4 linked regions of the Homo sapiens genome follow. The protein of the gene in region 1 interacts with the protein of each later gene in a biochemical or structural test. Each region holds a gene or a part of one and is shown in the gene's direction. Other genes may lie near its edges.

Region 1 (3,556 bases):
TTTGGGCATAATGAGAACCCACATGGAAGCTGGAGGAGCAGCTCCTGGTGGGTGAAAGTCTAAGTCAGATGTGAATTCATGCATCGCATGGGTTCAAAGTGACTGTCATAGATGTATGGGTTGGAAGCTCACCTAAGAAAGACTCTTTACAAACAGACTCAACTTTTCCAGAAAATGCTTCTTGTACAGTCAAATGTGGTAGTATGGACATGAACTACATAATGTCACTAACACCAGGCACTTGTTTAATGGCATATGCTGTATTAGTCAAATTCCATCAGAGATGGAGACTCCATATGATGTAGTCTACATGGCATCAAGCCAAGTGCAAAGTCCTGAGACTGGACTCAGAGTTGAGCATCGAGATTTGATGGGGCAGGGTGATAGTGTTAGAAGAAACAGGACATTTCACTTCTTGGTCTTTTGGCTAAGATCAAGTGAGGAAACAGGACATCATTTTAAATGAAAAAAGCATTGAACCAACAGTCAGGGGATCTAGCACCAATTGTAGGCTTTGGGAAAATTTAAATTCTCTTATTCTCTTTTATAAATGTTATTGCTGCTGCTGATAATGATGATGACAATGAGGATGAAAATGATGTGATGAAACCTAACACATACTGTGTTTCCAAATTTCTCCCAGCCTTAAAAACTGTACTCTTATAATCAAATAAGTATATGTTCTCATTCCCAGAAGGTACACATTTTCATAATTTGTTTCATAACTTACTTGGTGGAAAACTAGGGCCTCAATAAATGGTAGATAAAATAATTACCACTTTCTAGAATAATGTCTGTAACATTATCTAGAATAACATCTGGAATACGTAGAAGGTGTGCTCCCTGCCTGTTTGTCAAAATAAAATAGTTGAAATTAGAAGGAGAAAACAAAACTATTTCATTTTGACAATGATCATTGAGCTGACGCATACATGAGTAGCAGAAGATGGGAATAGCAAATTTTACAGGTTTGAAGGTTGCTGTGGACTGAATTGTGTTCTTCCATTGCTGTGGACTGAATTGTGTTCTTCCACAAATCACATGTTGAAGCCTTAATGTCCAGTATGACTATACTTGGAATAAGGAAGAAATGCAGGTAAAATGAGGGACTCAGGCTGGAGCCTTGATCTGATAGGATTAGTATCCTAATCAGAGCAGACATCAGAGAGCTCACTCTCTCTGTTTGCCATGTAAGAACACATGCAGAAACCCAAAAAGAAAGCCCTTATCAGGAACTGAATCGACCAGCACCTTGATCTACTTCCCAGGCTCCAGAACTGTGAGAAATAAATTCCTATTGCTTAAGCCACCCTGTCTGTGGTATTTTGCTATGGCAGGCTCAGCTGGCTGTTCACAGGTCTAGTGCTGTACCATTCCTAGCCCTGTATATCAGTTGGCATATAGATTCAGCCACTGGAGACGGACAGGTTAAAAAAGATAGTTTATTTCTCTCTTGTTAAGTCTCAACCTATATGACAACTCCACTCCATGAAGTCATTAGGAATCCAGATTCCTGCTGTCTTATTCCCAAATCTAGGGAACTGCCTTCTTCTGTGTGGCCCAAGATGACTCACCAATATGTCTGTATTCTACCCAGTGAGAAGGAGAGACAGAGACAAGAGAGCTTAGCCCTGCCCTTCACGAATATGACTCAGAAGTTGCATGCTTTGGCTCACATTCCATTGGTCAGAATTTAGCTCCTTGGTCATATTCAGCAGCAAGGAAATGTAGTCTCTGTTCTCTGAGGATGGGTACTCACTAAAACTTGGGGATTCTACTGCTACAAGAGAAGGGGAGAATGGTTTTCAAGGGACAACCAGAAGTCTTTGCCACAACTTGATTTATGAAAAGTTAAGTTTTTAATATGATTTTTAAAAAAACTATTCAAGGACTATTTAATTTGAATAAAATACCAGATTTCTCCCCTATGCAAATATAGAAAAAATCTTTTCTCTAAACTTAAAGAATGAGAGGAGATAGAAATGAATCCTAAATGTTTTAGCTACTACTTTAAATCTTCTAGGGGTAAAAACATATAAGAAAGAACTTCTAGAACAATATATATATATAATCTAAATAGAACAAGCTGAAAAAAATTTACTGGGTTTTCCTATGATTACTCTAAGCACTTGTCACATCTCCCTCTAAAAACCTTTTCCTCTGAAATCACTTAAATTTAACCCTTTTTTCTAATTTCTAAGGGATAGAGTAAAATAAGGAAGGAGATGCCTTATTCTGATACTTGGTTTCTCTTCTACTACTATTCCCTTCTTAGGGAAAACTAAAGAAAAGCTATTTGCCTTAAGTAACTATTAAAACTAATATCAGAAAAGTTTGTAAATATGAAACAGATGGAGAATATCTAAACATTTATAGACACTTTCTAAAACTTGAGAAATAAGTAGTTTTAATGACTGTCAACCTAGGCCGCCATAACAAAATATCACAGACAGGCTGACTTAAACAGCAGAAATTTATGTCTTACAATCTGGAGGCTGAAAAGTCCCAGGCCAAGGTGATGGCAAATTCAGTTCCTGATGAGCGCTCTCTTCAAGACAAGGAGTGGGGGATAGGGTGGAGGTATCCGGTGTCTCAAAGAACACTAATGCTACTGGATCAGTGCACCAGCCTTATCACTTCATTTTACCCTAATTACTTTCTTACTCCAAATGCAGCCACCCTAGTGGTTTAGGGCTTCAACATATGAAATTTGAGTGACACAATAGCATAATTCATAGCAGTGAGAAAATGCCTTTTCTCTGGTTATGTGTGCCTTTGCCAATAACCACCCAGAGGAATCTAGAGGCAAAAATGCTGCAAGTTCAATCAGTTGATAGATTTACCCTCGGCTGAGTTGAAGCCACTACAAATAACATCTGAGTTATCTTAGATTCAAATGAGACGCATCATAAATTCAATGTCTTTAATGTTGGAAGCTTGGCCTCTCATCAAGTCTCTGCTTTAGGAAGAAATCAATTCAACATTGAGGCAGGCAGCTTTCTGACCTACATGATTGGAGCCCCTGGGGTGCCGTAATACTCACCCAGTTTTGTTTTCTAAGGAATTCATTGATTAAAAAAAAGAGAGAAAGAAAGAAAGAAGGAAGGAAGGAAGGAAGGAAAGAGAGAATGAAAAGAAAGAAAGAAAAAGAAAGAAAGAAAGAAGAAAGAAAGAAAGAAAGAAAGAAAGAAAGAAAGAAAGAAAGAAAGAAAGAAAGAAAGAAAGGGAAAGAAAAACTCTTCTACTTAACAGTTTCAGGTCCCCATTTCAGCTTCTCTTTTTTTCCTCAGAAAGCACGAGATTCCTAGATGTTTATCTGTTTCTCTTCAATGATTTCCTCTTAGTTACGAAAACTAAGTGCAACAAAAAGGTAAAATGCTGCTATTTCAAAGTACGTTTCTAAACAAGTTTGCTAAATGAGTTTAGAAATATTTCTAAATAAACTGTGGTAAAAATATAAAATATTCTTAAGCTGAATCTTTTCCTCTAAAAAATGAAGGCATTATAAACTATTGGCTTTTTTAGTCATAAAGCTCTGAAGTAAATAAATAAATAA
Region 2 (3,556 bases), on another chromosome or scaffold:
GAACAGATCATTCTTTGTTAGGGAGTTACGGGGAACATCCTGTGTATTCTGGGATGTTTAGCGGCACCCCTGGTCTCTACCCACAAGATGCCAGTAGCACCCTCCCGTGATCGTGACAAACAAAAATGTCTCCAGACATTGCCAAATGTGCTCCCGGGAACAAAATCACCCCTATTGACAAACAATGGATTCAATCCTACCTTTGGAGGGAAGATAAAATTATTGCTGTCATTCACCATCATTAGTGTTAAAATCTTTTTATGCTTTTGTTTTTGTTTTCATTAAGTAAGAGAAACACAAAGGAAATTTTAAAATATACTGTTGGTCAGAAAAGAGAGGTATAGTTTATAGGTAATAAAAAGCAAAGGATTCCAGGAACCAGAAAGAGAAGGAGCCTTAAAATACTGGATCTATAAAATTGGAAGCAGTCTTATAACTGAAGAACACTTTCCAATTGATATTAGCTGGAGAAATTTGTGTGACTCTAATACAAATCACTGTTTACGTGGAGAACCATTTTGTCTTAGTATCTGATTTTTTTAAGTCATTTTTACTGGGTAAGGTACATTTATTTCTATCCCCTCCTCACCCCACGACAATTTTTTTTTTTAAGTATAATCAGTTTCAACACACTATCAGCCACCTTTAACTCACTTCCCAATTTCATGGGAAGGATGTCTTTGATCACAGTGAGCATTCAGCTTACAGAGATGTAGCAAGATGATGTGGGTCAAGTTCTTTTTAACTTCAGTTCTGATTTGCTGGAAGCTAATTTCTATAATTGACTTGTGATTTTTTTTTCAAGCCTGGCCCACTCGTAATAATTTGGATAACTGCTATAAGATCAATCAACCTATCCATTTATCCATCACTGTCCTTTAAAGGTTGTTTTTCTAGCCAAGAGTGAATAGTTTGCTTTCAAAACAATTTGCAAATGCTTTGCATTTTTGAAAGAAGTAGGATGGATGAATGGTGCTAAGTAACAATTACATAAAGAGCAGTGCCTTTATGTATAGTTAACAAATAAGTTGGCAAGCCATCTGCAAGTGAAAATAGAATTTTATGGTCATTGCCACTTAATGGTGGTCTACACCTTGTTGGAAAATTTCAACCTTAATAAACATCCCTGGCACATTCAGTATGAAACATGGACCTTTTTTTTTTTTAAATCAAATACTCTTTTTAGTGATATGGGATCCTACATTTTTAAGTCTTTGTAAAGATAACTTTTATCTGGATAAAATTTCATTTATAAATCACTTGTGAAACTCAACAGATTTTCCAAGTTGAATTAATAAAACAGAGCCTTATTTAGCAAGTTCAAACATTTCCACAATGATTGGCTCTCAGAAAGTTCATTTCCCCCGAAAACTTGCAAGGACTGGAAGAAACTTGAGAGGGGAAGTGTAAAGGGCCTGTTTAGAAGGCTTTGCCTAGATTGCAGGTGCGTATTCAAAATGATTCCCACAAAGTCTGCATTCAGGTGAGTCTCTTGTGCAATGGGAATATAGGTAGACACCTCACCTTTGTCCCTAATTGCAAGTAGAAGGCCCACTCACCTCTTGAAATCTCCCAGTGAGCAGATGTTCAATGGAACATTTTATGGTCTTGTTCTCACTTGCTGAGTGCCCTGGCCCAGCATATCTATACCCATGAGTGCCCCATACATTGACCCCCTAATAAATAAGATTTGAATCTTGATTTTATGTTCCAGTCCTTCATCAGGAAACCAAATATGTAGCAATTTTATTCCTAATGAATAGTCTTTGTCACATCTCAACTTTTCAGCCGTAAAATCATCCTTCTATCTTACACTTGTTTTCTGCTAGTCTCCAGCTGAAATGGAGTCATACCCAATAGAGTTAACACCTGAGGTTTCTTTTCTCTCCTCAGCTCTCTGCACTACAAGCCAAGGTCCATTATCTCAAGTTCCTCAGTGACCTACGATTGTATGGGGGCCGTGTGTTCAAGGCAACATTAGTGGTAATTTCTTTTTTTTTTTTTTTTTTGCTTTCTCTTGGAAGCCACAGCAGCTCATTCCGCCTCTGATGACAAAAGCAAATCAGCTGTGAATCTTCTCCAGCCTTCATTTCTAACCAACTTCACAACAGTCTGAAAATATCAGAAGAAATGTTAAACTAGATAACACCACTGCAGAATGCCCTAGAAAAAGAAATGTGAAGAACCGAGAGAATCAAAGGATTCTAACAATGGCCTTCTTTTAAATCATTGAGCCAGAAGTTGCTTTCACAGTGAAAAAAGGAAAACCAAAAAGAAAAAAACAAACCTCATTTCTAAAAGGATCTTATGATTATGAACATACTGTGCTATAACATTTACTTTCTAATTACTCATGATTTATCAGAGCCTCAATTCAGTCATGTATCTGGTTCTTCTAATTGGATGATTTAGTACAGTATGACCCAGAAACACTTTCTAAAGAAAATATAATCTTATAAAAATAGGATCATAGGTTCAAGTTGGCATAGCATTTCAGAGGTTCAGTATTTTTATGTTGTCAACTTCTCTTTCTCAGCAGGCAGAAAAGCGCTCGGAAGTGACTCTCCTGGTTGGGCCCCGGTATGGCATAAGCCATGTCATCAACACCAAAACCAATCTGGTGGCTCTTTTAGCCGACTTTAGCCACGTCAACAGGATCGAAATGTTTTCCGAGGAGGAGAGCTTGGTGCGGGTAGAACTCCACGTGCTAGATGTGAAGGCAAGTTTCTCAGGTGTTGACACATGGCCTTGCTGTCAACAGCTAATTTCTGATAACACTGCAGATGTTTACAAGGCAGGCAAAAGTCAATGTGTGCAGAGCATCACAGATGCAATGTGGTGCAGAAAATAATCCACCAACTCAGGCCTGAGGGCTCCAGTCCTCACTAAATCGCTGTGTGATTGGGAACAGGTCGCTATAATTCTCTGCGCTCAATTTTTTTATTCATACGTGAGAAAGCAAGCTACATAATTTCTAGGTCCCTTCTGACTTTAGAATATGTGATTTCTAGGTATAGAGTAGGGGAAACTTTTCTGAACTAACTTTCTAGAATATATGACTCAAATCAAGAGGGAGATTTTTCCCAACTTTCTTTAGAATTCTCACTCCCTTTGCTTACGTTAGGTCCATATGTGTTTATTCTTTTGGAAAAGCTTGATGTTTTAGTTCATCTGTCTTCTCATATGGTAGCAATTGGTACTGACTGAACATCTGGCTCCTATGAATGTCATGGCCATTCCATTTAAAACAAAAATCTGGCCAGGTGCGGTGGCTGATGCCTGTAATCTCAGCACTTTGGGAGGCCGAGGCGGGCGGATCACGAGGTCAAGAGTTCAAGACCAGGCTGACCAACATGGTGAAACCCCATCTCTACTAAAAATACAAAAATTAGCCGGGCGTGGTGGCGTGCACCTGTAATCCCAGCTACTCAGGAGGCTGAGGCAGGAGAATTGCTTGAACCCAGAGGTGGAGGTTCCAGTGAGCCGAGATCGTGCCATTGAACTTCAGCCTGGGTAACAGAGCGAGACTCCATCTCAAAAAAAAAAAAAAAACACA
Region 3 (3,556 bases), on another chromosome or scaffold:
TGAGTACAGTGGCATGATCATGGCTCACTGTAGCCTCAAACTCCTGGGCTCAAGTGATCCTCCCACCTTAGCCTCTCGAGTTGCTAGCTAATTTTTAGTGTTTCATAGAGACAGGGTCTTGTTGTGTTGCCTAACCTGGTCTCCAATTCCTGGGCTCAAGCAATCCTCCCACTTCAGCCTCCCAAAGCACTGGGATGACAGGCATGAGCCACTGTGCCCAGCCTGTCTTTACTTTTTCTTATAAATATTTTCAACCTCAAAAAAATTAGAGAAAATAGTATAGTAACCCCCACATACTCATTATCCACATTAACTAGTTATCAGGACTTTGCCATGTTTGCTTCACCTATCATGCCAAACATCGATCACATCATTTTATTCCTAATATTTCTCTATGCATTTCTTAAAAACTGGACATTTTCTAACATAACTACAGAACTGCTAATACACCTAACAAAAGTAACAATAATGCCTTTGTATTATCCATTACCCTGTCCATAATCATATGCCCTCAATTGTCTCAAAACATGTTTTACAGTTGGCTTGTTTGACGGACGTTCCAAAAAAGTTCCACACGTGACATTTGGTTGTTATGTCTCTAAAGGCCCTTTCAACAGCCCTCTCTCTTTGACTTGTCACAGAAATCAGGTTGTTTGCTCTGCACAATTCCCACATTCTGGTTTGTCCTCTTATTGCCAGTTAGCTTGTTCACCTATCCCCTATATTTTCTATAAATGGAAGTTAGCTCTGGGCTTGATTAGATTCAAGCTCATTTTTCTTTTTTTCTCGCTTTGGCATAATGATTAAAACAAGATCATTCTGGAGGCAGGAAGACCAGTTAGCCGGTTGTTACCATAGCTGGTTGGGGACAGAAAGAAGATGGGTGAATGTATTTGGAGGTAGAGGAAACCTGATTTACCTACCAATTGAATGCGTGGGGTGAGGAAGAAGGAAGAGTCAAAGATGATTCTAAGGCTTTGAGCCTGCATAACCAGGAGGGTACCAATGTCATCCTATGAGAAGGATGAGTTTTTAATGAGAGCAGCAGGTATCATGGTTAGATTAAAGGAGGAACTTTCTCACTTTCTCACAGTAAGAGGCCATCTGCTCTGTTTTTTTTTTCCAGATAATACTATCTTTCCCAGAAAAAAATTTGATTCGTGGTATAGCTAAACATTTGATAATGTTTGGAAAACATTTGGAAAGGGACTCCGTATTTTTTGTTAACTGCAAATAGTTAAATTTCCAGCTCCAGGGCCTTGAGAGGGAGGATAGTATATACAATTCTGGATAGAGAGAAGGTAATGCTGATATCTCCCTTGCAGATGAGCCTACTGTCCCATATCATCATGGGTTTCTGAGTCATCAGGCTTGGGTAGGAGAGTGTAGGATGCCAGAACCTGGGATTTCTCTAGACACAGCCAATGAGCATAGCTCAAGATCCATGTCTTTCCTTGATATTGGCTGAAGTCTCTATCCCACACCCACTCTTCCACCCAATATGGAGGCTGTGTGGACCCTCAGTGGACCATGGCAACAGTGTTCTTGCCAAAGTCAAAAATTGCCTAAAAGCCCTGGGATATTCACTGGACTCTGACAAAGCCCCAAGATTATTTCGACACCTCAGTAGGAACTTGCTTAACTCGTTGAATTGGATTAGGTGAGAACTACTCTCAGCTCCATCCCATCATACCCTCCTTCATAAAGGCTTTTCTCTCTCTTCCTTCCCCTAGCTCATCTTTCTTCTTGCTTTTTCTTCTGCTCCCCCCTCCCTGCTCTTTCTCTTCCAGCGTACATTTATTCTCTCAAGTTAATCAAACACTGGCCCCTACAGCCCATTGTGCCTCAGATTGATCACTTAAGTAGCGTTATTGATTGCCCAGAAAACCTTAGGAGGTGGGAGTGTTCTGAAAGCTAGGATCTGACAGCTGATTGGCTGCCTATGTCTCACTCGGCAGCCTCAGCTCCTCTGCCGTCTGGAACATCTTTTGAGAAAGGTGAGGGAATGAACAGCGGAGATCCTTAGCGGGCTTCACTTATCTCATCCTTCCTTCATACTGGAGTTAAGGCATGGGAAGAGAAGTCTATTGACCACTCCAGGATCTAGCCCTGTACTAATGTTATGGTGAGAAGGGGAAAGCAAAGGCCCTGCTCTCTGGAAATCCGTAATTTAACAGAAAAATAATACTCATTCATATGAAGTAACTAAGAATAATACAAGATGGAAAACAATTATGTGCCACATTTTTTTGCTCTAAACAGTAAGCACTGTAGGGGTTCAAAGCACAGAGAGAATGAGAGTGTGGGCTGGAATGAGGGGAGAAGTCTTCCCAGAAGAAGTTGAACCTGCGTTATGTTTTGAGTAACATGTGAGATTGAGATTGTTGACTAGAAAAGGAACAGGCTTCTGAGGGGGAGGCACAGCATAGGGAAAAGGCTGGAGATGGAAATGGTCAGGGTGTTATCAAGAAAGGGTCAGAAAGAAGTCTGACTAGAGGAGAGGGTGTATATGCAGGCACAGTGGGGAAAAAATGATTGGCTGGGTATGGGACTCCCAGATTTGAAGAGTCTCTGATGTCAGAAGAAGTTTGGACTTGGGTAAACCTTGGGGGCTGTCGGACAATTATGCATAGTGATTCAGGATGGTTAGCTATGCAGTTGGAAGCAGAATTGATTGGAATAGGGAGAGACTTGAGACCAGCCTATAAGATACTACAGCAATCTAAGTGAGAGGTGATAAGGGTGGTGGCAGTGGGCATAGAGAGGAGGGTCAAATCCAAAAGGCTCTCAAGGCATCGGTGTGGCTGATAAACCACCAAGTAGATTTTCTTGACTTGTTTTTGTCTCACTCGCTCCTTCCTCTTAGCCTCAATACTTACACTTTCTTTGCCTCATGCCCTCAGGACCTTAAGGTGGCAGAGTTTCTGGAGCTAAGATAACATTGGGCATTATAATCAGTTATCCTTTCCAAGTAAAGTAGATGCGCACAGGGGCCTTCAGTACCATGACCTGAAAGAGTGAGCAATGAGGAATCTGGCTGCAGAATGCAGTTGAGATGATAGCCAAGCTGGGGTGCTGAGTATTACATCCCCCAACAGGGAGGCCGGAGGCAGGCGATGCCTGTGTCTGGTCTGTTTCAAGTCCCCCAAGGCTTCTGAGAGCTGGTAAGAGTGAGGAAACATCTTTCAACTTCCCTGGTAGAATCAGTTTGAAAACTCTTCTGAGCACTTGGGAATCATCTCAGTGAAGGTCACACCTGTGCCAGAGTATGGCAAGAGCTACCACAGCACTTTGATGCCAGCTGGAGCCCTGTTGCAGCTGGTATAAGGAAACTAAGTGAGGAGTCCACAGGTTGATGGGAGAGTCATGGCCAGGGCCTCTGCCTGCTAAATTGCCTCCCCCACCAACTTTCCCCTCCCCACCCAATCCACTGAATATCAGCCCTGGATAGGTGTCTGGGCCAGGTCTGCCAGCCCTGGATTGGAGGGAAATAGAGAACTGCAGATAAAGGGATATTTGTGAGATTTTAGTCTCCTTTTACTTGTTCTTCTTGTGG
Region 4 (3,556 bases), on another chromosome or scaffold:
CCACAGTGCTGATCTTTTTCCCATCAGTAGCTTTTAAGACAATTATCAAGGGCTTAAAGCCCTCCACAGAACCTTTTCTTAGAATGAATGGGTTTAGTTCAACCATCATACATCTTCAGGGTAATGAACATGCTGCTGGACAACTGGCACTCTGGAAGAGCCTGGTCAGCTCTGTCTGTAACTGTGCTCTTCAACAGCACCATCTCCTCTCAAAGTATTTTCTTTCACTTGTGATTGCTTGTTTGATCCATTGGTTATTTGGGAGTATATTGCTTATTTTCCATATATTTTTGAATTTCTAAAATTTTCTGTTATAAAATTAAGGTGATTTAACTTTCTTTATATATTACAAAATGATCCTAAGATAAAATAGAAAAACATTGTTATTTTAGGGAGATGGGCTATGTTATGCATCCTGTTTTCAATTTAACATTGACATCTTGACATCTTGAGCTTAGTTAACAAATGAAGTATTACTTTGTTGATTGTGTCTTCATTATTTGAAGAGCAGCTAAAATTGAGAATTTTGCCTATCATAAAAAATTACTTCTAAAAAATCACATTATGTAGTTGCGCAGTATAGAAGTCTAAGGAATCAGTTGTAGTCAAACCTTCATGTTCTAATTTCTCTGTTCTAGAAATGGAAAGCAGTTTAAATATGTGGCAACGTAGATTGTTTTTTGAAGTGTTAGTAGAGAATAGGATTGTAGTTAAAATTCACTTGTAAACTAAAGAACATTTCTCTAAGAATTAAGATTCCCTCAGCATGGAGGTAGAGGTAATACATGTGCATATACATATTTATTTCAAGCAGCGCATTCCCCTATATGGTTTCACTGTAGGACTTCACCGAAAAAACATTAATTTTTAAAATTAATGTTCACAATGTTGAACCAAGTCCTATTATGCATTTATTTGGGGAGTTACAAGTTGCCTTAGAAGTTTTTTTATTTTTTTATTTTTTTAAGGTTTTTTTTTTTCCCCTCTTATTATTATACTTTTAAGTTTTAGGGTACATGTGCACAATGTGCAGGTTAGTTACATATGTATACATGTGCCATGGTGGTGTGCTGCACCCATTAACTCGTCATCTAGCATTAGGTATATCTCCCAGTGCTATCCCTCCCCCCTCCCCCCACCCCACAACAGTCCCCAGAGTGTGATGTTCCCCTTCCTGTGTCCATGTGTTCTCATTGTTCAGTTCCCACCTATGAGTGAGAATATGCGGTGTTTGGTTTTTTGTTCTTGCGATAGTTTACTGAGAATGATGATTTCCAATTTCATCCATGTCCCTACAAAGGACATGAACTCATCATTTTTTATGGCTGCATAGTATTCCATGGTGTATATGTGCCACATTTTCTTAATCCAGTCTATCATTGTTGGACATTTGGATTGGTTCCAAGTCTTTGCTATTATGAATAATGCCGCAATAAACATACGTGTGCATGTGTCTTTATAGTAGCATGATTTATAGTCCTTTGGGTATATACCCAGTAATGGGATGGCTGGGTCAAATGGTATTTCTAGTTCTAGATCCTTGAGGAATCGCCACACTGACTTCCAGAATGGTTGAACTAGTTTACAGTCCCACCAACAGTGTAAAAGTGTTCCTATTTCTCCACATCCTCTCCAGCACCTGTTGTTTCCTGACTTTTTAATGATTGCCATTCTAACTGGTGTGAGATGGTATCTCATTGTGGTTTTGATTTGCATTTCTCTGATGGCCAGTGATGGTGAGCATTTTTTCATGTGTTTTTTGGCTGCATAAGTGTCTGTCCATGTCCTTCGCCCACTTTTTGATGGGGTTGTTTGTTTTTTTCTTGTAAATTTGTTTGAGTTCATTGTAGATTCTGGATATTAGCCCTTTGTCAGATGAGTAGGTTGGGAAAATTTTCTCCCATTTTGTAGGTTGCCTGTTCACTCTGATGGTAGTTTCTTTTCCTGTGCAGAAGCTCTTTAGTTTAATTAGATCCCATTTGTCAATTTTGTCTTTTGTTGCCATTGCTTTTGGTGTTTTAGACATGAAGTGCTTGCCCATGCCTGTGTCCTGAATGGTAACGCCTAGGTTTTCTTCTAGGGTTTTTATGGTTTTAGGTCTAACGTTTAAGTCTTTAATCCATCTTGAATTGATTTTTGTATAAGGTGTAAGGAAGGGATCCAGTTTCAGCTTTCTATGTATGGCTAGCCAGTGGTCCCAGCACCATTTATTAAATAGGGAATCCTTTCCCCATTGCTTGTTTTTCTCAGGTTTGTCAAAGATCAGATAGTTGTAGATACGCGGCGTTATTTCTGAGGGCTCTGTTCTGTTCCATTGATCTGTATCTCTGTTTTGGTACCAGTCCCATGCTGTTTTGGTTACTGTAGCCTTGTAGTATAGTTTGAAGTCAGGTAGTGTGATGCCTCCAGCTTTGTTCTTTTGGCTTAGGATTGACTTGGTGATGCAGGCTCTCTTTTGGTTCCATATGAACTTTAAAGTAGTTTTTTCGAATTCTGTGAAGAAAGGCATTGGTAGCTTGATGGGGATGGCATTGAGTCTGTAAATTACCTTGGGCAGTATGGCCATTTTCACGATATTGATTCTTCCTACCCATGAGCATGGAATGTTCTTGCATTTGTTTGTATCCTCTTTTATTTCGTTGAGCAGTGGTTTGTAGTTCTCCTTGAAGAGGTCCTTCACATCCCTTGTAAGTTGGATTCCTAGGTATTTTATTCCTTTGAAGCAATTGTGAATGGGAGTTCACTCATGATTTGGCTCTCTGTCTGTTGTTGGTGTATAAGAATGCTTGTGATTTTTATGCATTGATTTTGTATCCTGAGACTTTGCTGAAGTTGCTTATCAGCTTAAGGAGATTTTGGGCTGAGACAATGGGGTTTTCTAGATATACAATCACGTCATCTGCAAACAGGGACAATTTGACTTCCTCTTTTCCTAATTGAATACCCTTTATTTCCTTCTCTTGCCTAATTGCCCTGGCCAGAACTTCCAACACTATGTTGAATAGGAGTGGTGAGAGAGGGCATCCCTGTCTTGTGCCAGTTTTCAAAGGGAATGCTTCCAGTTTTTGCCCATTCAGTATGATATTGGCTGTGGGTTTGTCATAGATAGCTCTTATTATTTTGAGATACGTCCCATCAATACCTAATTTATTGAGAGTTTTTAGCATGAAGGGCTGTTGAATTTTGTCAAAGGCCTTTTCTGCATCTATTGAGATAATCATGTGGTTTTTGTCTTTGGTTCTGTTTATATGCTGGATTACATTTATTGAGAAGTTTTATTATACACACCTTTGGTGACTAATTCCAGAAACCTTAAAGATCACACAGTTTTAAATATGAAAAGCCATCATAGCATCTTGAAGATTCTCAAAGATACTTTATAAATACTCTTCACAGTAGTCTAAGACGACCACTCTCAAGGTTGAGCCAGAAAACAAGGGGAAAACAGGAGTCCTATTATACATAATGATCTCATTTGACCCTTATTTTTGAGCATGAGTTTGAAGTTCATTTTGTTCTTATAAAAGTTTTCTATGTCTTAGGCTTATTAGAAATA

Evidence for each region. Proteins that work in one complex are often made in the same cells at the same time.
Region 2: the proteins of PLEKHG7 (region 1) and FRMPD4 interact in a test that uses a peptide from one of them, tested with the Homo sapiens proteins (one large-scale study listed by IntAct).
Region 3: the proteins of PLEKHG7 (region 1) and FRMPD3 interact in a test that uses a peptide from one of them, tested with the Homo sapiens proteins (one large-scale study listed by IntAct).
Region 4: the proteins of PLEKHG7 (region 1) and PALS2 interact in a test that uses a peptide from one of them, tested with the Homo sapiens proteins (one large-scale study listed by IntAct).

The regions. Positions count from the first base shown.
Region 1 is NC_000012.12:92,758,462-92,762,017, forward strand, and holds part of PLEKHG7 (pleckstrin homology domain-containing family G member 7), read left to right. Parts: intron 1-3,290; coding exon 3,291-3,370; intron 3,371-3,556.
Region 2 is NC_000023.11:12,704,933-12,708,488, forward strand, and holds part of FRMPD4 (FERM and PDZ domain-containing protein 4), read left to right. Parts: intron 1-1,893; coding exon 1,894-1,983; intron 1,984-2,536; coding exon 2,537-2,719; intron 2,720-3,556. UniProt on the Homo sapiens protein: Positive regulator of dendritic spine morphogenesis and density. Required for the maintenance of excitatory synaptic transmission. Binds phosphatidylinositol 4,5-bisphosphate.
Region 3 is NC_000023.11:107,456,112-107,459,667, forward strand, and holds part of FRMPD3 (FERM and PDZ domain-containing protein 3), read left to right. Parts: intron 1-3,556.
Region 4 is NC_000007.14:24,674,412-24,677,967, forward strand, and holds part of PALS2 (protein PALS2), read left to right. Parts: intron 1-3,556.